Homo sapiens: one gene and its partners. The protein of the gene in region 1 purifies or fractionates together with the protein of each later gene. This does not show direct contact. Each region holds a gene or a part of one and is shown in the gene's direction. Other genes may lie near its edges.

The links.
Region 2: the proteins of GPR55 (region 1) and RUSF1 purify together in Homo sapiens (affinity purification with mass spectrometry; one large-scale study listed by BioGRID and IntAct). This does not show direct contact.
Region 3: the proteins of GPR55 (region 1) and LPGAT1 purify together in Homo sapiens (affinity purification with mass spectrometry; one large-scale study listed by BioGRID and IntAct). This does not show direct contact.
Region 4: the proteins of GPR55 (region 1) and MYO19 purify together in Homo sapiens (affinity purification with mass spectrometry; one large-scale study listed by BioGRID and IntAct). This does not show direct contact.
Region 5: the proteins of GPR55 (region 1) and STK11IP purify together in Homo sapiens (affinity purification with mass spectrometry; one large-scale study listed by BioGRID and IntAct). This does not show direct contact.
Region 6: the proteins of GPR55 (region 1) and ALDH5A1 purify together in Homo sapiens (affinity purification with mass spectrometry; one large-scale study listed by BioGRID and IntAct). This does not show direct contact.
Region 7: the proteins of GPR55 (region 1) and FASTKD1 purify together in Homo sapiens (affinity purification with mass spectrometry; one large-scale study listed by BioGRID and IntAct). This does not show direct contact.

The regions. Positions count from the first base shown.
Region 1 is NC_000002.12:230,908,243-230,911,742, reverse strand, and holds part of GPR55 (G-protein coupled receptor 55), read left to right. Parts: intron 1-646; 5' UTR 647-780; coding exon 781-1,740; 3' UTR 1,741-3,500. UniProt on the Homo sapiens protein: G-protein coupled receptor that binds to several ligands including 2-arachidonoyl lysophosphatidylinositol or lysophosphatidylglucoside with high affinity, leading to rapid and transient activation of numerous intracellular signaling pathways.
Region 2 is NC_000016.10:31,491,392-31,494,891, reverse strand, and holds part of RUSF1 (RUS family member 1), read left to right. Parts: intron 1-955; coding exon 956-1,026; intron 1,027-1,104; coding exon 1,105-1,289; intron 1,290-1,367; coding exon 1,368-1,425; intron 1,426-1,843; coding exon 1,844-1,914; intron 1,915-2,551; coding exon 2,552-2,695; intron 2,696-2,805; coding exon 2,806-2,883; intron 2,884-3,500.
Region 3 is NC_000001.11:211,796,264-211,799,763, reverse strand, and holds part of LPGAT1 (acyl-CoA:lysophosphatidylglycerol acyltransferase 1), read left to right. Parts: intron 1-3,500. UniProt on the Homo sapiens protein: Lysophospholipid acyltransferase involved in fatty acyl chain remodeling of glycerophospholipids in the endoplasmic reticulum membrane.
Region 4 is NC_000017.11:36,510,869-36,514,368, reverse strand, and holds part of MYO19 (unconventional myosin-XIX), read left to right. Parts: intron 1-643; coding exon 644-740; intron 741-863; coding exon 864-940; coding exon of another isoform or gene 941-1,000; exon of another isoform or gene 1,001-1,283; intron 1,284-1,485; coding exon of another isoform or gene 1,486-1,495; intron 1,496-1,589; coding exon of another isoform or gene 1,590-1,711; intron 1,712-2,913; coding exon 2,914-3,004; coding exon of another isoform or gene 3,005-3,010; intron 3,011-3,451; coding exon 3,452-3,500. UniProt on the Homo sapiens protein: Actin-based motor molecule with ATPase activity that localizes to the mitochondrion outer membrane. Motor protein that moves towards the plus-end of actin filaments. Required for mitochondrial inheritance during mitosis.
Region 5 is NC_000002.12:219,607,857-219,611,356, forward strand, and holds part of STK11IP (serine/threonine-protein kinase 11-interacting protein), read left to right. Parts: intron 1-190; coding exon 191-574; intron 575-726; coding exon 727-932; intron 933-1,240; coding exon 1,241-1,357; intron 1,358-1,506; coding exon 1,507-1,684; intron 1,685-2,014; coding exon of another isoform or gene 2,015-2,025; exon of another isoform or gene 2,026-2,270; intron 2,271-3,396; exon of another isoform or gene 3,397-3,500. UniProt on the Homo sapiens protein: May regulate STK11/LKB1 function by controlling its subcellular localization.
Region 6 is NC_000006.12:24,532,969-24,535,337, forward strand, and holds part of ALDH5A1 (succinate-semialdehyde dehydrogenase, mitochondrial isoform 2 precursor), read left to right. Parts: intron 1-538; coding exon 539-744; 3' UTR 745-2,369. UniProt on the Homo sapiens protein: Catalyzes one step in the degradation of the inhibitory neurotransmitter gamma-aminobutyric acid (GABA).
Region 7 is NC_000002.12:169,556,866-169,560,365, reverse strand, and holds part of FASTKD1 (FAST kinase domain-containing protein 1, mitochondrial), read left to right. Parts: exon of another isoform or gene 1-1,442; coding exon of another isoform or gene 1,443-1,453; intron 1,454-3,068; coding exon 3,069-3,179; intron 3,180-3,500. UniProt on the Homo sapiens protein: Involved in the down-regulation of mitochondrial MT-ND3 mRNA levels which leads to decreased respiratory complex I abundance and activity.

The DNA.
Region 1 (3,500 bases):
ATTTCTCCCATATCTCTCCATTTTCTGTCTGGTTTTCTCTTTGGGGTACAAGAGGCTGCAGCAGCTGCAGACCTTATATCTTGGCAACTATGAATCCCTGACAAGGGACTCCAACCCTCTGCCTGGAAACCCAAGCAAAAGTTGTGTTGATTATCATGGCTTCTTGGAGAGTCAAATATCTGTCCCTGAACCAATGAACTAACCAGCTACTGTGTCCAGGGGAATGCAACGCTCTGGTGTCAATCATCCCTGGTTGCAGGTTGACTGTGTCCAACCATCAGGAAAGTGGGTGGGAGGAGGACAAAGGAGACAAAAGGAGCTGAGTCCTGGAAACAGCATTTGAATCCCTGATCCAGCTGCTCCTGAAGTCAGCCCTACCCTAGTTTTCATGTTTTCCATTATGTGAAACTGTCTCTTTGCTTCAGCCTGTTTGGGTCTGGGTATGTGCTGTTACTTCTTTCAACAAAAGGAGTTCTGATTTAAAAGACAGATGTCCATGCACAGCAGGTTCTATATTTGTCAAAGAAAAATGTGTGTATGGTAGAAAGAGAGTGAGAAAGCGAGTCTGGAATGATATACACAAAAAGTAACAGTGGTTGCATCTGGGCAGCAGGATTAAAGGTAATTTTTCTTTTCTGTGTTCTAGTTGTGATTCAATGGGCATGAATTGCTGTGTGATGCTGGGGAGGTGTTTGTGATTCTTGACAAAGTCATTTGAATCCATCACTTCAAGAGAGTGAAAGGAGCCCCGTCTGATCTGTTGGTGTTGTAGGAAGAAACATGAGTCAGCAAAACACCAGTGGGGACTGCCTGTTTGACGGTGTCAACGAGCTGATGAAAACCCTACAGTTTGCAGTCCACATCCCCACCTTCGTCCTGGGCCTGCTCCTCAACCTGCTGGCCATCCATGGCTTCAGCACCTTCCTTAAGAACAGGTGGCCCGATTATGCTGCCACCTCCATCTACATGATCAACCTGGCAGTCTTTGACCTGCTGCTGGTGCTCTCCCTCCCATTCAAGATGGTCCTGTCCCAGGTACAGTCCCCCTTCCCGTCCCTGTGCACCCTGGTGGAGTGCCTTTACTTCGTCAGCATGTACGGAAGCGTCTTCACCATCTGCTTCATCAGCATGGACCGGTTCTTGGCCATCCGTTACCCGCTACTGGTGAGCCACCTCCGGTCCCCCAGGAAGATCTTTGGGATCTGCTGCACCATCTGGGTCCTGGTGTGGACCGGAAGCATCCCTATCTACAGTTTCCATGGGAAAGTGGAAAAATACATGTGCTTCCACAACATGTCTGATGATACCTGGAGCGCCAAGGTCTTCTTCCCGCTGGAGGTGTTTGGCTTCCTCCTTCCCATGGGCATCATGGGCTTCTGCTGCTCCAGGAGCATCCACATCCTGCTGGGCCGCCGAGACCACACCCAGGACTGGGTGCAGCAGAAAGCCTGCATCTACAGCATCGCAGCCAGCCTGGCTGTCTTCGTGGTCTCCTTCCTCCCAGTCCACCTGGGGTTCTTCCTGCAGTTCCTGGTGAGAAACAGCTTTATCGTAGAGTGCAGAGCCAAGCAGAGCATCAGCTTCTTCTTGCAATTGTCCATGTGTTTCTCCAACGTCAACTGCTGCCTGGATGTTTTCTGCTACTACTTTGTCATCAAAGAATTCCGCATGAACATCAGGGCCCACCGGCCTTCCAGGGTCCAGCTGGTCCTGCAGGACACCACGATCTCCCGGGGCTAACGGAAGGACATCCTGTTCAGGGGAAGAAAGCCCTGGCCCTGAATTCTGGTAACGGATATCGCGTTCCAGGGTTTTGATGTGGTGGGATGATCCGCACCATCTTCACTGATGTGCTTCCCTTTGATGCCCATTGAGTGCCAGCTTTGCTCATTATACCCCAAAGACCTTTTTTCCACTGCCCAGACAGCTTATACCACCCAGTGTTCAGGGATCTCTGAAGAACCCACAGACCAGGTGAATTACTGATTTCTAAGTCCAAAAACTATAGAGCAGAAGAATTGAGAAAGAGAATGAGACCATGTCAACAAGGCTGTTTCCAACTCTCCCCATTTTCCTGTTCGACTGGGAGGTTCTGGAAAGAAAGAGAGAGAGAGAAAAGAGGTAAAGGAGGGAGCCAAGAGAGTCAGTTATTGGGGAGAGTGTCTTGGGCAGAGGTGGGGTGGTAGGGATGAGTGAAGTCCCTTTTTAGTTTGGGTGTCCCAGAACAGAGCAGACTTGCATTTTCCAGTCCCTTCTGGAACTGTGTTGCCAAAAGCCTCACTGAGATGACAGCAAGAAGGGGTGGTGTTGGGGCTGGGCAAGTAGCATGGATCACCCCAAGTTTCCAGTGAGCCTCAGAAAGGTGAAGGAAGCCAGCCACACCTTTCCGTGCCCGTGAGAAGACTGCAAAATGACTGAGTGGGGTGTTGATGACATCCAAGAGCCATGAGGGGGGAGAGGAAAGGACACTTCTGGGGAAGGAAGAAGACAGGCCCAGGGCTGGAAGCACACAGCCCCTCCCCTATCACCATCAGGGTGTCCACAGCACGGAGTGTTGGTGCTGGCCCAGGGTGAAGAGAGACAGTGAGAGACGGCCTGGGAGCGGGGAGACCCCGACCTGCTTTCTATCTTAAACAGACTGGGAAGTTGCTCATTACAGCTAGCTTCCTTGAAAACAATGGCAAAGAATCAGGCCTGCCTTGGTTCCACCATAGGAGGGTGGAGGAGGTGCTGTCTTACTCACCTGCATCCTGGCTGGGCAGCTGGCACCCGTGGCACTGCCCATGGAGCCGTCCCTCCCTGGCAGCTGGGAGGGAGATGAGGCAGCTAGGCACAAGGGTGTGGCCTTGAGAAAGAAGGCAAGGGGGGGTCCCTGCTGGTCCCAGGAAACTGTAAACAATTGAGTCACGCCTGGATGGCTTCTCAACGGATCTGGAGGAGGAGTGCAAGTGACAGCGGAAGCCTCCCAATGACTCAGCTGCTCCGGAGAGTGAAATGATGAGAAGGATCCATTGTGGGGTGGTTTTGCATGACAGAGCGAGTGGGATGAGGAGTAACTGATGAGACTTCATGTGAGCAAGGTCTTCAGGAGGAAAAGCAACTGAGGTCTACTTGTAGGATCTGGGCTCAGTGGGGGCTGAAGGGCTTGGGAGGGGTGGTGACCTGAGGGGAAGAAGAGAAGCATTTGGATAAACCTGGACCTGTGGGGAGGAGGAGGAGGAAGAGGAAGAGGAAAAGGAGGGGAAGCTGAGCCGTGGCCCTAGGCTTGAAGCCTGCAGGGAGTGCAGGGTGGGTGGGGAACCTGGCTGAGCTGCTTCCTGCCTGAGAGCTTTCCCAGCTGGCCTAAGAGCCATGGACGGACAGGAGTCGCCTTCTCAGGAGCAGCTCCCGCTGTTGCTGTGTTCAAGTGGCACCCTGTACACCTCCTCCTAGGTGGATGGAGGGAAGGGTGAGGAAGAGAGCGTCAATGAAGGGGTGGAAGTGGATGTGGAGGAGTGACC
Region 2 (3,500 bases), on another chromosome or scaffold:
TCAGCCTGGGCAATATAGCAAGACCCATCTTTACCAAAAAATGCAGTAATAATTAGCAGAGGCGTGGTGGTAGGATCACTTGAGCTCAGGAGTTTGAGGTGGCTGTGAGTTATGATTGCACCACTGCACTCCAGCCTGGGTGACAGAGCGAGACCCTCGCTCTTTAAAAAAAAAAAAAAGTACACATTAGTGAGTGCCTGAGTGTGGGTCTGTTCTGGTGACTTGCAAGACAAGATGTGTTCAAGGGTATTCCGAGGGCACCTACCTGGGCAAAAAAGCAACTGATACACATATGTATTTAGACAGGGTATCACTGTGTCTCCCAGGCTGGAGTACAGTGGTGCAATCATGGCTTAATTTTTTTTTTTTTCTTTTTTGGAGACAGTCTTGCTCTGTTGCCCAGGCTGGAGTGAAGTGGCGTGATCTCAGCTCACTGCAACCTCCACCTCCCAGGCTCAAGCAGTTCAGCCTCCTGAGTAGCTGGGAGTAGAGGCACGCGCCACCATACCTGGCTAGTTTTTTGTATTTTTACAAAAATGCAATGGGTCTCACCGTGTTGCCGAAGCTGGTCTTGAACTCCTGAGCTCAGGGAATCTGCCCACCTCGGCCTCCCAGATTGCTAGGATTACAGGCGCGAGCCACTATGCCCCACCAAATTTTTAATTTTTTTGTAGAAATAGGGTCCCACTATGTTGCCCAAGCTGGTCTCAAGCTCCTGGACTCAAGTGATCTGCCCACCTCAGCCTCCCAAAGTGCTGGTACTACAGGTGTGAGCCACCTCGAGCTGGCATCTTTTAAATGACATTTCACCCACCAAAAACTAAAAATTTACCCACATTGCAGTAAGGAGCCCTGGGAGGTTGTGGAGCAGGGAGGATGAGGTGAAAGGCACTCGGGCACTCAGTCTGGCCTGGAGGGGCACCTTCCAACTCCTTCTCCCTCTGCCATTTTCCAGGAGACGCTGGTGAACCTGGCGGGGCTCTTGGTCAGCCTCCTGATGCTCCCTCTGGTGTCAGGTTGCCCTGGGTAAGCCGGAAGCAGGGTGGGCAGGAGAACCCCAGCTGGGCCTCTGCCCACTTCAGCTACCTCACTCTCTCACCCCAGCTTCAGCCTTGGATGTTTCTTCTTCCTCACTGCCCTCCACATCTACGCCAACTACCGCGCGGTCCGAGCCCTGGTCATGGAGACCTTGAACGAAGGCCGGCTCCGGCTGGTCCTGAAGCACTACCTTCAGAGGGGAGAGGTACTCGACCCAACTGCAGCCAATCGCATGGAGCCGCTGTGGACAGGTGACCCTGCCCCTGGTCTCGGGTCCTGTGTCTCAACCTCTCCCACTGCCTAGGCATCCTGACCCCAGCTTCCCACAGGTTTCTGGCCAGCTCCGTCTCTATCCCTGGGGGTCCCCTTACACCGCTTGGTCTCCAGGTGAGTGGCCTAGCGTCTCCCGCTCGTCACCACCGCCACCCACACTCCCCTCACTCCGATTACACACTGGCCTCCCTGGCAAGGCCCCACCTCTCTGTCCTGGGTTCTTCATTGCTGCTGAACAGACATGGGGTTGGTGTGGGTGTGTGAGGAAGGAAAGGGTGTATAACATGAAGCAGATGTAAGAGATGTGCTTGATGGGTGAAGGAAGGATGGGTAGATGGGGAAGTTGGATGACTGGATACAGGAAGAAAGGATGGATTTGGTGTGTATGGGTAATGGCTGAGGGAGAGAGGAAGCGAGGGGACCTGAGTGAAGCCTGGATCATTTCAGTTCACTGGGTGGCTGTTCAGTGGCTGGTTGGGCATGCCTGCCTTTGCTGTCCTCCACCCCCACTGCACTGTCCTCTCCCCCACAGTGTCTTTGAGCTGCAGCAGCTGGTTGAGGGGCACCAAGAATCCTACCTCCTCTGCTGGGACCAGTCACAAAGTGAGTGTGCCTCATTCTCCCAGCCTAAGACGCACCCTCCCAGGTCAGCCTCTCATTCCTCCAACCTAGGGCCCCGAGCTCTGGGCAGTTTGGAGGCTGCCTGTTCTGGGGGTTGCTCTAGACCGTTCAAATTACAGCTGCAATGCCCCAGTGAAATTCATGTCACCGCTTTGTAAAACAGAGCTAACAGTACCTGCCTTATTCCTTGCGGTGTTTTTATGAGGATCAAATAATGTGACTGCAAAGCTACATTGCAGCACTCTTAGGAAGGCTATGACCTTTGCTGTCCGTGGGAAACCACCCTTCTCTCCATCCTGGGTTGCCTCTTGGGTAAACAAGTCCTTGAGTGTGCTGGTCCGCTGGTTGAGTGTGAAAAGGTGCTTATTCTCACTAGCCATTAAAGAAATGCAAAATAGACCCAGCCCAGTGAGCGGCTGGGAAATTGTATTTGGAAATTGGTCAGTTTGGCCCGAACATTGGGGAGCAACAGGAGATGAATTGGAAAGGAAAGGGTGAGGTGCTAGCCTTCCGTGCCAGGCCAAGGTCTTGGGGCAGACAGGGGAAGCAGGGTGATGGGATAGAAGGGGTTTGGGAGGTGGCCCTTCCCTGATACCAGTCTGTCTCTGGGTCCCTCCAGACCAGGTACAGGTAGTTCTGAACCAGAAGGCAGGCCCCAAGACCATCCTAAGGGCCGCCACACATGGGCTGATGCTTGGGGCCCTGCAGGGAGATGGACCCCTTCCAGCAGAGCTGGAGGAGCTGAGGAACCGGGTGCGGGCAGGTAAGTGCCTCAAGATTTAGACTGCTGATGCCTCAGGGTGGGGAGGAGAGAGGACAAACTCTGTCCTGCTGGAGGACACAGAGCTTCTGGTTCTGCACCCCCGTACCCAGGTCCTAAGAAAGAGAGCTGGGTCGTCGTCAAGGAGACACACGAAGTGTTGGACATGCTGTTCCCAAAGTTCTTGAAAGGTAACATCCCTCAGCCCATGGCTGCTTGGCCCCTGAAGCCTTGTCCCTGGGGGCCCCGCCTTCCCCCACTCCCACCCTTTCACCTGAAAGGTAAAAGACTTGGGTTCTTGGGCCTGGTGCAGAGGCTCACACCTATGATTCTAGTGCCTTGGGAGGCCTAAGTGGGCAGATTGCTTGAGACCCTGCCTGGGCAACATGGCAAATCCTTGTCTGTACAAAAAAAACACAAAAATTAGCCAGGTGTGGTTCTGCTCTTGTGGTTGCAGCTACTCAGGAGGCTGAGGTGGGAGGATCACCTGAACTGGGGGAGGTCGAGGCTACAGTGAGCCATGATTGTACCAGCCTGGGTGACAGAGCAAGACCCTCTCTCAAAAAAAAAAAAAAAAAAAAGACTGTCGGGCACAGTGGCTCACACCTGTAATCCCAGCACTTTGGGAGGCCAAGGCGGGCAGATACTTGAGCTCAGGAGTTCAAGGCCAGCCTGGGCAACATGGTGAAACCCTGTCTCTACCAAAAATATAAAAAAATTAGCTGTGCATGGTGATGCACGCCTGTGGGACTGTCAGGAGGCTGAGATGGGAGGATCACTTGAGCCTAGGAGGCAGAGGTTGCAGTGA
Region 3 (3,500 bases), on another chromosome or scaffold:
ATACCTGCCCCTTTAGACCTGGTTATTATTCAACTGTCATTGAGAAAAATGCTTGATTATTTGGCTATATACCTCTCTACCCCTCCTTATTGTTGCCATCCACCATCCTTATTTGTTGAGGACTTTGGGACTTGGCTTGTCCACCCTATTCCCTGGCATAATCATGGGCAACTTTAGGGGCTGCAAGGGCATTTATCCAAGTTCCTGTCCTTAAGGTTCTTTGACATGAAGCATGCCAGCAGTGACAATATGATATTGTGGTTTTGAATCCCAGTTCCCCTACTTCCTAACTATGTAAGTTTGAAAACAGTGCTTAACCTTTTGTGCCTCATTTTCCTCATTTGCATATTGGGGATGATACTATCTGCATATTTGGAATTTTGTGAAGATTAAATCAGAAAATAATGTAAATTATTTTCTATTACTAAGTACTAGTGCATGGCACATAATAAACATTCCATAAATGTTAGCTATTAAGATTATTATTTATATATCTATTTAATAATATCTGCTACTATTATTATTTTAGTTATGTAACCCCTCCAAAAGCTACCTCTTGAGCCTTGCTTTCTCAAATTTTAACCTCTTAAAATTTAAGAGTCAAAGGGACACTGACCATGATTTCCTAGTGTGTACAATGTACTTGCTTAAAAAAAAATAAAATTAAACTTATCAGCACTTCAATTCCAGTGGTTCTTATTTAGAAGTATGTATTAGGAGGTTTTTCAAAAGTCTGGGCCTTCCCTTGGGAAGCTTGACTAGAATGTTATGGAGATGGGGGTGGCATCAGCATCTCTATGTATGATTGCCCTCCCTCCCTCTCTTTTCTAGGTAGTCAGCTGTTTGTTTGCAAGGCTGCTTTTCCTCACCAGTCTCCACTCCATTAATCAGTACTTTAAGCCACTCTCTCATGGCCACTTTTAATGAACTAACACCCTCCCTTGGATGAATCCAATCCTGTCTGCCTCAAACCTGGACTGCTGAAAGCCACAGTTCTCCAGCTATGTGAAATTCACTTATGGATTATTTTGGCTCTCTAATTTTTTATTTGTTTTTTGTTGTTGTTGTTTGTTTGTTTTTAGAGAGAGTGTCTATATATGTCAACCAGACTGGAGTGTAGTGGCATGATCACAGCTCACTACAGCCTTGAGCTTCTGAGCCCAAGAGATCCTCTGCCTTAGCCCCTAGAGTAGCTAGGACCACAGGTACATGCCACCACACCCAGCTAATTTTAAATTTTTTTATAGAGACAGATCTCACTTTGTTGCCCAGACTGGTCCTGAACTCCTGGCCTCAAGGGGTCCTCCTGCCTCGGCCTCCCAGAGTGCTGGGATTACAGGTATGAGGCACTGTGCCCAGCTGGCTCTTTAATCTTTACTATTAGACTGATTTTCATATGACACAGTAGGCATAGGGCTCTTTTAGTTACTAGTGATTCCAAAAGTGACTTTAATCCCATTACTCAGGATCTCTATGGTACTGTCAATTAGATCTTCCTCATTTTTGCAACATGTTTACGTAGCATTAATGATATTATTGTTTCATAAGTGAGAAAATGAAGACACAGAAGGATAAAATAGTTTGTTGCATCAGCTTGCGGGCATAATAAGCAACCTTTCTTCTCTCTGTTAATTCTGTTTTGTAGGCCAGTATAATGGCTTTAGTGTCACTGTTGTTAAGGAGTTTTTGATGGGTTGTTTCTATTTTCTTTTTGAGATGTGAACTGTCCAGATTAATTCTAATCTATAACTTTTGGGAAAAGTATATTGATATACATGTTAGAATGTGTGTGTGTATGTGTGTGTGTTGTGTGTATGTAGTAGATGATAACCTTTAGCTTTGGTTTTCAATAAGAATTTTAAAATTTATTACAATTAGAAAATTTTTCCTCCAGTTTTTATTCAGTTGTCCTTTTTCCCTTTGGAAATAGTGGACCTGACCCAATTCTTTTTTGAGAATTCATTTCATAGAGCAGCGTGTTAGAATATTTTTGTTCTTCTAATCAAGTGCAGTGTAAGAACTGTAGACATCCATAATTTCTTTTCTATCCCTTGGTTAAGATATTAGCTTTATTACTATATTTACTGGTCCTGGAATAGCAAGGCATAATCTGAGGAGCATAGCTACTTCATCTGTGTAATAAATTGCTCTTTCACTACAAACATTTTAATACTGATTTTGTTGGTCATTTAACTTTCTAATAGTGGTCCTTAAATTATGCTCTAAAAGAAGAATACCATATATATTGGAAATTAAATTTGTTGTTGAATAAAATTAGAATTATTATAAAATTCAACACGACCTTATTGCTACCTCAGGATAATTTCTTGGCAAAAAGTTGATCCAAACTGGGTGTGGTGGCTCATGCATGTCATCCCAGCACCTTGGGAGGCTGAGACAGAAGGATTGCTTCAGCCCAGGAGTTCCTGACTCAAAAAAAAAAAAAAAAAAAGAAAAGGAAAGAAAAGTTGATCTAGGTACCTTCATTTTGTTTTGTTTTGTTTTTTTGAGACAGAGTCTCGCTTTGTCACCTAGGCTGGAGTGCAGTGGCTCAATCTTGGCTCACTGTAACCTTTGCCTCCCAGGTTCAAGCGATTCTTGTGCCTCAGGCTCCAAAGTAGCTGGGATTGCGGACATATGCCACCACACCTGCTAATTTTTGTAATTTTTAGAAGAGACAGGGTTTCACCATGTTGGCCAGGCTGGTCCCGAACTCCTGACCTCAAGTGATCCACCCACCTTGGCCTCCCAAAGTGCTGGGATTATAGACGTGAGCCACCACACCTGACCACCTTCACTTTTTTGATTCAGCATGCTATGTGAGTCTTGGTAAATTGACATTTGGTCTGAAAATAAATTTTGGCTAAGTTCTGATTGAGAGATAAAACATGTAGTGGATTAACTCTTAATAATTATACTTTAAAGTATAATTTCTGAAAGTATTTAGAAGTGAAAATTAAAAACCATTTATAATACATAATGTTAGATTATATATAATGTGCTGAATATTAAAAGATAATGCAATTCTTTTCCTATACTTGATAAGAAAAGAAAGACTATAATTTTGGGGAAAATAGAATGGAAAGGGAAGAGAGAGGATGGGGAAAATTGAGGGAGGGGTTATGTTAATTCCTTAGGGCTGCCATAACAAATTACCACAAAGTGGGTTTTACAGCAGATATTTATTCTTTCACAGTTCTGGAAGTTAGAAGTCTTGAAATCAAGGCGTCAGCAGGGCCATGCTCTCTCGAAAGACTCTCAGGGAGGCTCTTCCCTTGCCTCTTCCAGCTTCTTCTGGTGGTTGTCCACCATCCTTGGTGTCCCTCAGCTTGTAGGTGCGTCACTTCAATCTCTGCCTCTGTCATCACGTGGTGGTCTCCCTGTGTGTCTCTCTGACCCACATTTTCCTATTCTTATAAGGACTCCAGTCTTATTGGATTTAGGTTTAGGGCCCACCCTAATCCAGTATGACCTCATCTTGATTCACAGATTTTGGGGGG
Region 4 (3,500 bases), on another chromosome or scaffold:
GAATGCTCCATACCTGGTTCCTTCACCTAGCTTTTGATGGAGCCACCACTTTATCCTGCAGACTTTACATGCAGCACTTCTGCCTCACACTGCGCCTTGGCTCCCAGCACAGTTGTGGCCTGGGAGTATGTTTTACCTCCTCCATCAGACCAGAAGGTCCTTGAGGCTGGGACTGTATCTCTAGGGTGGAAGCCGTGTCACTCTTATCATTTTAAGGGCTCTCCTAGAATGGCATCTGTCGCTAACAGAACAAGGGCTTCCCTAGAGTTGTGCCTTTTCCATCGGACTGGGAGTCCCCCAAGGCATGGATAGGATATCTCCCTTTCTCTCAAAATCGGAGCATCCTTAGGTGATGGGTATGCCTCCCACGTCAAGACGACGGACTCCCTGGGCAGGAGTTGTCCTTTTTTCACCAGACTGCAGGTTTCCCTAGAGCAAGGTTCTTTTGCATCAGGTTGGAGACATCCAGGGCTATGTTTACGGCATCTTTTGCCCCCATACCTGCCGTGGGCTCTCGGAAGGGACCTCTGAGCCTTGTGATGTTGCTACCAACTCTCCTCTTATCCCAACCCCATGCCTGCCTATGCAGGCCTGGGCTTTTCTCAGACCCCCTACCCAGCCTCCCACCTACCCTTCTCCACAGATTTGCAAAGGAGCCAGTGAGGACGAGAGGCTCCAGTGGCACCTTCCTGAGGGAGCTGCCTTCTCCTGGCTGCCCAACCCAGAGAGGAGCTTAGAAGGTAAGGGGAGCCCCATCCAGCACCTTGCGCTGACCCAGCATCACCCACCCACTCTGTACAGAGCCTGCCTCCCTCGCATCTTGCTGCTGCTGACCTCTGCCCCGAACTTGGATTCTTTTTCAGAGGATTGTTTTGAGGTGACCAGAGAGGCCATGCTCCATTTGGGCATTGACACCCCTACCCAGAACAACATCTTTAAGGTCAGAAGAAAAGCCACGCCACTTAAGTTTGGCAGAGATGACGGGCAGCCCTTTGCATAGAGCTTTTCCCTGGACTTGGAGTTGGTCTTTCCCTGAGGATCTAGGACTTTGGGCCCTTCTGTGCTACCTCCAAGGAATCAGTCACCTCTGTTCTGCTGAGTCTGGAGACCAGGTGGTGGGGTGGACGGGGCATAAGGAAGAGTGATGCATACACAGTGCTAGAGTACAGAATGCAGTAAGTGATCCATGGGGGCAGAGAGCAAGGTACCGCATGATCAGAAGAGAGAACTAGTGCTACCGCCTTGCTTGTCTAGTACATTAAAACTTACAAGTCATGTTCACACTTCTCTGCTCACTTAGTTTTTTAAACAGTCCTCTGTGTGTGTTTATTTCCCTTTATGCCTGAGAAAACCAGAGAGGTAAAGTGACGTGCCCAAGGTCAGATACCACTAAGTGGTGATACAGAGTACCAGACATAGTAATTCCAAGTTCCTACCCTCTCTGTCTTCCCCCAACCCGTGCCCCGTCGTCCTCTGGAACATGAGACTGCCCCAGGTGAGCTGGGCTCCTCTCAGTCACACTAGGGGGGCCTCCCTTCTGTCTTTGCTGACAGAGCTGACTACCTCCTCTCATCTTCCTCACCCTCTAGAGCAGCAGGAGGGGATAGATAGGATGGCCTGGCAGTCGAGAAAGGGAGGCCACTTCAGGGAGGTAGCAATGCAGTGGAAAGTGACCCTCACCTCCAGATGGGGGCTGCTCAGACACTGCCAGGTAAGAACTTGACAGAAGGACAGTACCTGGGGACAAGCCCAGGATAAGTGGACAACACTGGGAGTCGGGGCAGGAGTGCTTTGGGGGTGGGCATGACCCTCTGCCACAGCCCTTCTGCCTGGTGGGCATGGCAGTCTTCTGGAGCAAGTTGTGGCCGGAAGACCAGTAGCACATGGAGGCACCCTGCCTGGGACCATATAGGAATGGTGGGTGGGGTCCCTGTGTCAGGTCTGAGGGTGGTGGTTTTTTCTTTTTTTTTTTTTTTTTTGAGATGGAGTTTTACTCTAGTTGCCCAGTCTAGAGTGCAGTGGCACAATCTCAGCTCACTGCAACCTCCTCTTCCCGGGTTCAAGTGATTCTCCTACCTCAGCCTCCGAGTAGCTGGGATTACAGGCATGTGCCACCACACCCAGCTAATTTTGTGTGTGTGTGTGTGTGTGTGTGTGTGTGTGTGTGTGTGTTTATTTTTAGTAGAGATGGAGGTTCACCATATTGGTCAGGCTGGTCTTAAACTTCTGACTTCAAGTGATCCACCTGCCTCAGCCTCCCAGAGTGCTGGAATTACAAGCGTGTGCCACCATGCCTAGCTGGGTCTGAGGGTTTTGAAGTTGCTGGGCCTTGGTGGGGTGAGGGGAGCTTCTGTCTATAGCCCCAGGGGGCTTGTCGGTGTGGAACATTGAGTACAAAGGCAAAGGGGCACCCATCGGACACAGACCAAGGTCACAGTGCCTCCAGCAGGCTGGGCTCTCAGAAGCCTGACAGTGGGAAAGGGCTCAAGGAAGCAGAGACAAGCCTCCAGCAGGCACACAGAAGCAGCCCTGCCCCCAGTCACCAGTCTATTCCTAGAGAGCAGGGGGCAGAAATGTAGAGGATGGGTGGGCATGGAGGCCCACAGGCTGCCCCAGGAGACATCTGAAGTCAGCCTGGGTTCTCATCCCACCTTTCCCCTCAGGAAGCACGTGTCCTCAGTCTCATCTCTATCATAGGCAGTGGCGTAGCACATACCTTACAGGTTGTTGAAAAGTTGCAATGAGGCGATGCATGTAACTTGTATAGAATTGTGTCTGGCAGAGATGGGCACTTGGGCCATGATTGGGAGCTGCCCTTCTGCTGTCGTGATTGTACTCAGCAGAACGGCCCTTCCCAGAGTAGGCCCACGTCACGCCCTCTCCTACTCCCACCCATCCTTTTCTTTCCCCCAGGTCCTAGCTGGACTGCTGCACCTTGGCAATATCCAGTTTGCTGCCTCCGAGGATGAAGCCCAGCCCTGCCAGCCGATGGATGATGCCAAGTGTGAGGGTCAGGGTGTAGGATGGGGCAGGCCCTGTCAGGAAGGTAGCCAGCATTGCTGGGGTTGGGTGGAAGGCTGGATGGTGAAAATTGGAATCTGATGCCCTTGCTTATGCCACCCACCATAGGGCCTGGCCCTGGATCATTTACTCCTCACCCTGTCTGGTGAGGCAGACAGTATCGTCCCCATCTTAAAGATGAGAAAATGAGTCAGAGGTTTGTAAAGTGATTTGTCCCATACATGGCAGCATGGACTGGTACATGAAAGTGCTGGGTTTGAGTTCTGACTGCTGTTTATGGAGTCCTTTGGGTGAGTCACTTCACTGATCAGAACTTAGGTTTCTTCTGTCCAGTTGGGCAAGTCATGGTCCCGCTGTGATGACTTCACAGTGCCTCGTGAAGAGGACTGGATGGAGAGTGATTTGCCTAAAGAGGATTTGCCCCTCCCAGACTCTGTCAGGACGGCAGCCTCGCTGCTGGGGCTCCCAGAGGACGTGCT
Region 5 (3,500 bases), about 11 Mb from region 1:
ATTGCATGTGACCACAGGGTTCCATAGGACACGCTTTAGTACATGCCGCGGAGGGGACGCCTGTAGCCTCCCTTGCCCGTGTCCCCATACACAGCCCATCGCCCCCTCATCGCTGAGGAGCACCGTTGAAGGATTTGGGGCCATCTGTGTGGGGCAGGCTTGCTCAGTTCTGGGTTCCCCTCCTGCCTAGGATGGTTCGTGCAGCAGCACCCGGAGCTGGAGCTCATGAGCAGCTTCCGGGAACGGTTCGGCCGCAACTGGCTGCAGTACAGGAGTCACCTGGAGCCCTCCGGAAACCCTCTGCCGGCCACCCCCACTACTTCTGCACCCAGTGCACCTCCAGCCAGCTCCCAGGGCCCCGACACTGCACCCAGACCTTCACCCCCGCAGGAGGAAGCCAGAGGCCCCCAGGAGTCACCACAGAAAATGTCAGAGGAGGTCAGGGCGGAGCCACAGGAGGAGGAAGAGGAGAAGGAGGGGAAGGAGGAGAAGGAGGAGGGGGAGATGGTGGAACAGGGAGAAGAGGAGGCAGGAGAGGAGGAAGAAGAGGAGCAGGACCAGAAGGAAGTGGAAGGTGAGCCCTTTGTGGGCTGGGGCGAGCTGAGGCCAGGGGCCCTTGGGATGTTTGTGAGTGGTGGGGCCTGGCGGGTGGAGGGCCAGTTCGGGGGAGGGCAGAGTGTGGGTACTTTCCCTCCCTGCAGGCCTTTTCTCTTGGTCTCTCCACAGCGGAACTCTGTCGCCCCTTGTTGGTGTGTCCCCTGGAGGGGCCTGAGGGCGTACGGGGCAGGGAATGCTTTCTCAGGGTCACTTCTGCCCACCTGTTTGAGGTGGAACTCCAAGCAGCTCGCACCTTGGAGCGACTGGAGCTCCAGAGTCTGGAGGCAGCTGAGATAGAGCCGGAGGCCCAGGCCCAGAGGTCGCCCAGGCCCACGGTGAGTGGGGCGTGGCAGGGTCTCTGGAGGAGCCAGTTATGGGAACATGGCTGTTGTGTGCCCTGCACTGGGCTGGGCATTTCTTTCAGTCTCTCCTTGGCACTAGGAGCCGAGGAGGGGAGCCTCAGAGGTTGCAAGCACTCGGGAAGCTGGGCTGAGGAGCAGGGATTCTGTGCTGGAGCTTGGACGTCAGTACAGGCCTTTGACAGGCTTCAGAGGTCCTGCCATCCTCCATGCTCTCAGCATCCCCTCATCCCTCTGATCACCGCCCCTGCTGTTTTTCACCCGGTCCCCCTCTTGCTGCGCAGGGCTCAGATCTGCTCCCTGGAGCCCCCATCCTCAGTCTGCGCTTCTCCTACATCTGCCCTGACCGGCAGTTGCGTCGCTATTTGGTGCTGGAGCCTGATGCCCACGCAGCTGTCCAGGTGATGGCGCCCAGAGTGGGGGCCCAGGAGGCTGTGGGGATTAAGAGAGCCAGAGGGAAGTGGCAGCAGGCCTGAGGGCCGGGGGCCTGTGGGAGGTGTCCGTCTGGGGTCCGCCTGCTCACAGCTGCCTCTGATCCACCCTCTGTCAGGAGCTGCTTGCCGTGTTGACCCCAGTCACCAATGTGGCTCGGGAACAGCTTGGGGAGGCCAGGGACCTCCTGCTGGGTAGATTCCAGTGTCTACGCTGTGGCCATGAGTTCAAGCCAGAGGAGCCCAGGATGGGATTAGACAGTGAGGAAGGCTGGAGGCCTCTGTTCCAAAAGACAGGTACAAGTCCTGCCCTTGACCTCTCTGCCCACACGCCTCCCCTGTTCCAGGGAAAGTGGCTCTGTGTAGGGGAGTGTGAAGGGGGAGCCCTAGGGAGAAGGGGCTAGAGTGGAGAGCAGTTGTTCTGCCTGGAGGAAAAAGAAAACCGTCTGCCTGCTGCATTTACAAAAAGGAAAACAGAAAAAAAGAAGAAACTATATCCTGTTTTTTTTTTTTTTTTAACTCTAAAAGTCAGGAAATGCAATCTCTGTAACTGTGCTTAAACATACTCATTATTTTTTCATAACTTGAAGGCTTGTTGTGTTGGGGATTTTTTGGCTGATATTTCAGACACTACATAAAACCTAATGAGCCCTCACTGCAGTATTGGATTGTGGTGCTGCCTCTGCCAGCAAGTGTAGCTGTTGAGTGAGATGCTTGGGGAGTTGGCTTGGTTTATCCTTCCCGGCTGACCTTGGAAGGTACATAATGTCCTGTGGCATTTCTTCATGCGCTAGTCCTTAAAACAAGAATTGTTTCCATTGTAGACCAGTCAGCACTATCTTTGAAGAAGACATTGAAGAAGAAATAAATATTCTTGATAACAGCTCTGTGGAAATGCCAGAATTTTATTAGACGGTTTTCTCTTCTTGGCGGCAGCTGGAGCAGGGGTTTAGATTTTATTCAGAAAATGGAGCCCTGCTCCATTCCCCACTGTGAACTGGCCTGGGCATGCAGCCTTAGTGACACAGCGCAAACAGAAACAGCCCCCAGCCCCTCCCGGACCCTGGCTGTACACCATGAGGTGCTGTGGTCTCTGGAGCCTCTTCCATGGTGGCGTTATTAATGAACATTACTGTGGGCTCTGTTCTCCTTTAATTTTTTTTTTTCTTTTTTTTTTGAGACGGAGTCTCGCTCTGTTGCCCAGGCTGGAGTGCAGTGGCACAACCTTGGCTCACTGCAAGCTCTGCCTTCCGGGTTCACGCCATTCTCCTGCCTCAGCCTCGCAAGTAGCTGGGACTACAGGCGCCCACCACCACACCCAGCTAATTTTTTGTATTTTTAGTAGAGATGGGGTTTCACCGTGTTAGCCAGGATGGTCTGTCTCCTGACCTCGGATCTGCCCACCTTGGCCTCCCAAAGTGCTGGGATTACAGGCGTGAGCCACCACGCCCGGCCAACCATTCTCCTTTCACTTGCACCTCAGTTACCTCCTCTGAACAAAGAAGGGAATGAACTCACCCCATGGTGCTGTTACGCTATTTAAATGTGACAGTAAGGCACCAAGCAGAGGGCCTGGCACAACACAAAGGTCTCCTGTAAATGGTAGCTGCTGCCGTTGTCCCCAGCTGTATGGTCCTGGGCAGCATGTGTAAATGATTTAATATTTTCTTTCTTCTTTGCAAAATGGGATAGGGAGAGTTTCTCTGGTGATGAAATGCGATCATAGTGGCATAGGAGGTAGCGCATGCCCATCACGGTGTAGCTGCTCAGAGTGCTGCCTCTCTCATTGCTGATCCATGTCCTGATTCCTTCCCAGCTTCCTGACACTAAGGATGAGTATAAGATAGATGCTATTGTCATCCCTGTTTTATAGACGAGGAACCAGGCTCACAGAGCTTAGATGACTTGCCCATGATTACAGAGCCATTAATTGATGGAGCCTGGAATTGGACCGAAATTTGGCAACAGAGTTCTCTGCCTTTCCAGACCTGTTGATTTTGGTCTTTCAGACGTTGCTAGGAGAGCCCTGAAGTACTTGATCAGCCCAAGTCTGTAAGAGGGCATAAGAGCAGGTCCTGGTTGTGTTTGGCCCAGTCTGAGAGGGCCTAGAGTT
Region 6 (2,369 bases), on another chromosome or scaffold:
GCAGAATTCTGGTTGTGCAGAAGCTGGAGGAGAGAGATTCTGGGCAGAGGGCACCAAGGGAGTTGAGAAGCAAAGTAAGAAAGGGTGAGGAGAATTTGGCTGACAGGTTTGGAGAGGATGGTTGGTGATTGGAGTAATGGAAGATGAAGCCAGAAATGTTGATTGAAACTACTTGTGGGGGAGAGGGTGTTGAATACCCACTAATGAATTTAACCTTATTTTATAATCAGGAGTCATCGAAAGGCTTGGGCAAAAATGTCGTGTGGAAATCTAACAGGTGTGCAGGTGGATTGAATAGTAGAAAACAGGAAGAGGGTCTCGATAGGAGATAGTGAGAGTAGAATTGAAGCAAGAGGTGACTTTCAAAGGTTTTGAGATGAAAAAGTGGACAAGACCAACCTGGGACTTTATCTGGGAGCAGGGAAGACTCCAGGCCCAAGTGGCTGGACAAAAAGTCATCAATGGTGCCCTCATCTTTAGGCATGATGTCTTTAATGACTCTTCTAAATGCCATATATGTCCTTTTATCCTGTGACAGGTTATTTTTACTCTCAAGACCCAGCCCAGATCTGGAGAGTGGCAGAGCAGCTGGAAGTGGGCATGGTTGGCGTCAACGAAGGATTAATTTCCTCTGTGGAGTGCCCTTTTGGTGGAGTGAAGCAGTCCGGCCTTGGGCGAGAGGGGTCCAAGTATGGCATTGATGAGTATCTGGAACTCAAGTATGTGTGTTACGGGGGCTTGTAGGATTCTTTGGTTCTTTAAAAAAATTTAAAAGGAGACTTATCTACATATATAGGTACATGCCATCCATTATTTTAAATAAACTAATAGGTTTTCAGAATTATGAATTTTTCAGAACTCATCCAGTCCTTGTAATCTTAAACAGATGCAAATCCTACCCCTGCCCTTAATGTAACTAGGGACCAATATGTGCCACGTGCCTGTGGCTGCAGACTCCCAGAGAACCAGCACTGGGTTTACAGAATGAGGCCCTGGCTCCCCACCACAGCCCCAGCTGCCTCAGAGCAGGCACAGCACAAGGCAGGCCCAGCCCCATGGGCCGTCACAAAGGCTTGATCACTGCCTGGGCAGTGGCACAACCATCCCCCATGTCGCTACAGAACATGGGCCCAGAGCACCTTGAAGGAGACCCTTGACTGTGACTGGCAGGCAGGTGAGGGGCACAGCACCCCTCCCCGGCATCTGCCAGCTCAGCACAGAAGACACCGAATGTGCATCTGGAGGTGTTGCGGCAGAGGTTTGAGTGAACCCTCTTTCAAAGACAATAAATAGCACAGAATTGTCCGTGCTTCTGTGAGGCACGAAGGAGCACCTCTCCCTATTCCTGAACCATATTTTAATTGATGCCTTTATTGTCCCAAATTTACCACTTAAAGAATTCTATTTTCATTTCTGTCCTGTTTGCCACTTCATTTCATTTCCTTGAGTAAATGAGCTGAAGTGTAAAGCAAAGAATAGCAGAAGCAGCTTGGTAGGATGGAAGGCACGCAGTGGCATGGCCTGGCTCCTTCCCTGAGTGGCCTTGTTGCCTTGGGCGTGTGTTCAGCACCTCCCATCCCATGGATACAGTGGAGATTCCATACAGGCCTTACTTAGCTCCTTGCGATACTGTGAGCCAGAGAGAAAGTAAAAGCACTTCACAAAAAAATGAAAATTCTAAGGACATACAAGAGCCATTGTTACGAGCAGCACCGCCCAGCCCTTCCTTGCCTACTGTCAGTGGCTTTGCCAAGATGGGAGGAGGCCAGTGCCCACTTGCCCACCGACCTGAGCCTGAGTAAGTGGCTGTCACCTGAGCCTGTTCTTTCTGTCCTGGTGTGGTGCTGCTCCCTCACCTCCAAAAGAGCAAAAGTACTTTCACCACAGTCAACCCAAAAGGGAAAGAATTTCTGTAATTGCCAACCCACTTTGTAGAAGAGGCATGAGCCCTTGAATTTCAGGCACCTTTTATCTAATGAGAGTTTTTACAGCTCATCATTCAAATAACGCACAAAAAACAAAAGCCGCTATGACCGGCGTTGCCTCTCACTTTGAAAGAAAGACTCCGTAATCTTAAACAGATGCAAATCCAATTAGGCGGCCAAGTAGGTGGAGACGAAGCACCTTCCTTTCCCCATCTCTGTCTGTGTAGACTCCACTTACATCTTGTGGTTATTCTGGGTTGTGGAAGGAAAATGTGAATGAAAGTAGTGCTGGATGCAATTACTCCTGAACCCCACCTAGGATTTAACATCCCTCATTGAGCCACTGGGAAGCTATGGTTGAGTAACTAAAGGTCTGGCAAGACCCTGGGCACACAGGGAGCTGCCTAGCATCTGGCCTGGAGTGTACTAGCCACATTCCCAAGG
Region 7 (3,500 bases), about 61 Mb from region 1:
TTACTTTTTTTGTTGTGAATACGTGGAGCCTTCAAGCTTAGGTCTCCTTGCAGCTCTGGAAGGTACAAATATCACCCTATTAGGTTGTGGAAGGGAAAATAATCTCTTATGCTCTGCTCCTTGATTCTTTTTCTGATTATTCTAATTTACATCTCAAACTCTTAGTCTGTTGCTGTGTTCTGAAAGGTAAACCTCTGATACTGGGCCAACATGAAAAAAAATGAGGGGAAACGCCATGTGTTTTTATTCTCCCTTTTGTGCTACATGACTGGATTTACACATATAAGACTCCCCCACCCAGTGTAAGTCTGTGGAATATTTAGAATTATAGTAGTCATAGCAGAGGGCCATTTTATGCTTTGCTGTCTTCATCACAATAATCATCAAAGCATTTATTATGCACTGGGCATATGTTCCCATGTCAGGTTTGAGCAAATTTTGTGTGGCGCCTCTCATTTAGGAATTTCCAGTTTTGCTAGATACTGATGTAGGTAGTAATATTTGAAATATAATGATGAGCAAATATTAAATTAACATACAAATACGGTTAATAGATAAGAGTTTCTCTTCCTAGGCCATGTGACTGGATTTATACTAGACATAAACTTCCCCCACCCAGCATAATTGTATGAAATATTTAGAATTACAAGCTGGGCACGGCGTTGCACGCCTTTAATCCCATCACTTTGGGAGGCCGAGGCAGGTGGATCCCTGGATCCCAGGAATTTGAGACCAGCCTAGGCAAGATGATGAAACCTTGTCTGTACAAAAAAATACAAAATTAGCCAGATGTGGTGGTGCCCACCTAGATTCCCAGCTACTCATGAGGATCACCTGAGCCCAAGGAGGTTGAGCCTGCAGTGAACTGACATTGCGCCATTGAATTCCAGCCTGGGCACAGAATGAAACCTTGTCTCAAAAGAAAAAATAAAAGAAAAAAATAAGAATTTTATATAATAGTCCTAACACATAAGTATGATTAGTAGATTCACTTAAGCAGGGGTTCCAAGACTTGCACAATAGGGGAATCTGTATCATTACTCTGTTAGGGAAAACTTTACGGAGAAAGTTTTATTTTTTAAGAGTACTTTGTGGCTGGGTGCGGTGGATCATGCCTGTAATCCCAGCACTTTGGGAGGCCAAGGCAGGTGGATCACCTGAGGTCGGGAGTTCAAGACCACCCAGACCAACATGGAGGAACCCCGTCTCTACTAAAAATACAAGATAAGTCGGGCATGATGGCAGCGCCTGTAGTCCCAGCTACTCGGGAGGCTGAGGCAGGAGAATCGCTTGAACCCGGGAGGTGCAGGTTGCAGTAAGCCAAGATCGCGCCATTACACTCCAGCCTGGGCAACAAGAGCGAAACTCTGACTCAAAAAAAAAAAAAAAGTACTTTGAATTATATGAAAAAATTTAAGAGCACATCTTAAGACTATATCAAGATGGAAACAAGGTGATTATTAAAAAAAACTATTGGGGCCCAGCACGGTGGTTCACACCTGTAATCTCAGCACTTTGGGAGGCCAATGCTGGCAGATCACTTGAAGTCGGGAGTTTGAGACCAGCCTGGCCAACATGGTGAAACCCCGACTCTACTAAAAATACAAAAAAAAAGGGCCGGGTGTGGTGGCTCATGCCTGTTATCCCAGCACCTTGGGAGGCTGAGGCGGTTGGATCACTTGAGGTCAGGAGTTCGAGACCAGCCTGGCCAACATGGTGAAACCCCGTTTCTAGTAAAAATATAAAAAATTAGCCGGGCGTGGTGGTGGGCACCTGTAATCTCAGCTACTTGGGAGGCTGAGGCAGGAGAATCGCTTGAACCTGGGAGACTGAGGTTGCAGTGAGCCAGGATTGCGCCATTGCACTCCAGCCTGGGCAACAGGAGCGAAACTCTGTCTCAAAAAACAAACAAAAAAATACAAAAAATAATTAGCCGGGAGTGATGGCAGGTGCAATGGTGGGCATCTCTAATCCCAGCTACTCTGGAGGCTGAGGCAGGAGAATCGCTTGAACCTGGGAGGCGGAGGTTGCAGTGAGCTATCATGCTCCTGCACTCCAGCCTGGGCAACAGAGTGAGACTCCATCTCAAAACAGACGAAGAAACACACACACGAACAAACTTTATTGGAACCGTTTTTTGTCACCAAGTACTGTTAAAATCTCAGTGCTAAAGCAATAAAACAGTTGGGTTTAACTGAGTCTGTCTTCAAGGAATTTATATTGCAATTGAGAGGATAGATATAATTGAAATATGTAAATACTGTAACAACATAGTTTATGAAGAAACAATAAAATTAGTGATATGGATAGTGCTGTGAGCAGACAGAAGTGAGAGAAAAATATAGACTGAAGTGGTTGGGAAAAGTTTGTGGAGAAACTGGGTTTGAAACCTTTGAAAAGGTTGGTGGAAAGGATGGCATGGAGTTATCCATGTGAATAGACAATTAGTTTATCCTATCAGATGTCACGTTTCGAGCTTGCTTTCTAAATGATTCTAAAAAATACACGTATCATGGTACTTAACATTACTGCACTACTTTGGATAGTTCAAATGACAACTAATCATAGTCAAAATGGACCAGCTTTGTTAATTTTCAGTTTATACTGTTATATCAAGTGCTTAGTATATGAGATTTCTGATAATATGCAGGTTTATTGACTCCTAGATGTTCCTATTCAGTTTTAAAACATTTGGGAAATTGTCAGAATATCAACTGTTCATTTCTTAGCTCTCTAGTATTGAATAATTTCACTGAATCATAGTATTTTATAACCATTATAACCTTGTATTATTTGAAAATCTTAAAATATCTTTTACCTGTATTTTTCAAACAGTTTAAGATTGGATTATAATGAGGCCTGAATTTCATTGAAGAAGACAATATATTTTTCTTTATTCAGTAATATTTTATATTCGAGTAATGTGGGGAGAACACTAGAATTATATATTGGATTCAGTTTTTGTTTATATTTTTTTTCCTATTTGTTACCCAAGAACTGTTATTTAAAAAAAATTGCAAGCTAATTTTCAGTCTTTCAACCAAAAACTTTTTTTTTTTTGCTTCTAGACTTAAATCAACTATGTTATTGATGTCAGAGGACCTAACTGGCGAGCAAGCCCTGGCAGTGTTGGGAGCAATGGGAGATATGGAAAGCAGAAACTCATGTCTGATTAAAAGGTATCTTTTCTGAAATTTACGACGTTAAGTTTGTTGTCATTCACAAGCACCTATTTTTTTCTAAGGAAAAATGGTTTTCTTCTTTAATCTACCAGTTGTTTTGAAGAAATAAGGAATTAATGCTTAAGCCACTGTTTATGTTCTACTTTGTTTTTCTTTTCTTTTTTTTTTTGTTTTTTTGAGACAGAGTCTCACTCTGTTGCCCAGGCTGGAGTGCAGTGGCACTATCTCTGCTTACTGCAACCTCTGCTTCCCTGGTTCAAGCAATTCTCTTGCCTCAGCCTCCTGAGTAGCTGGGACTACAGGCGCCCACCACCATGC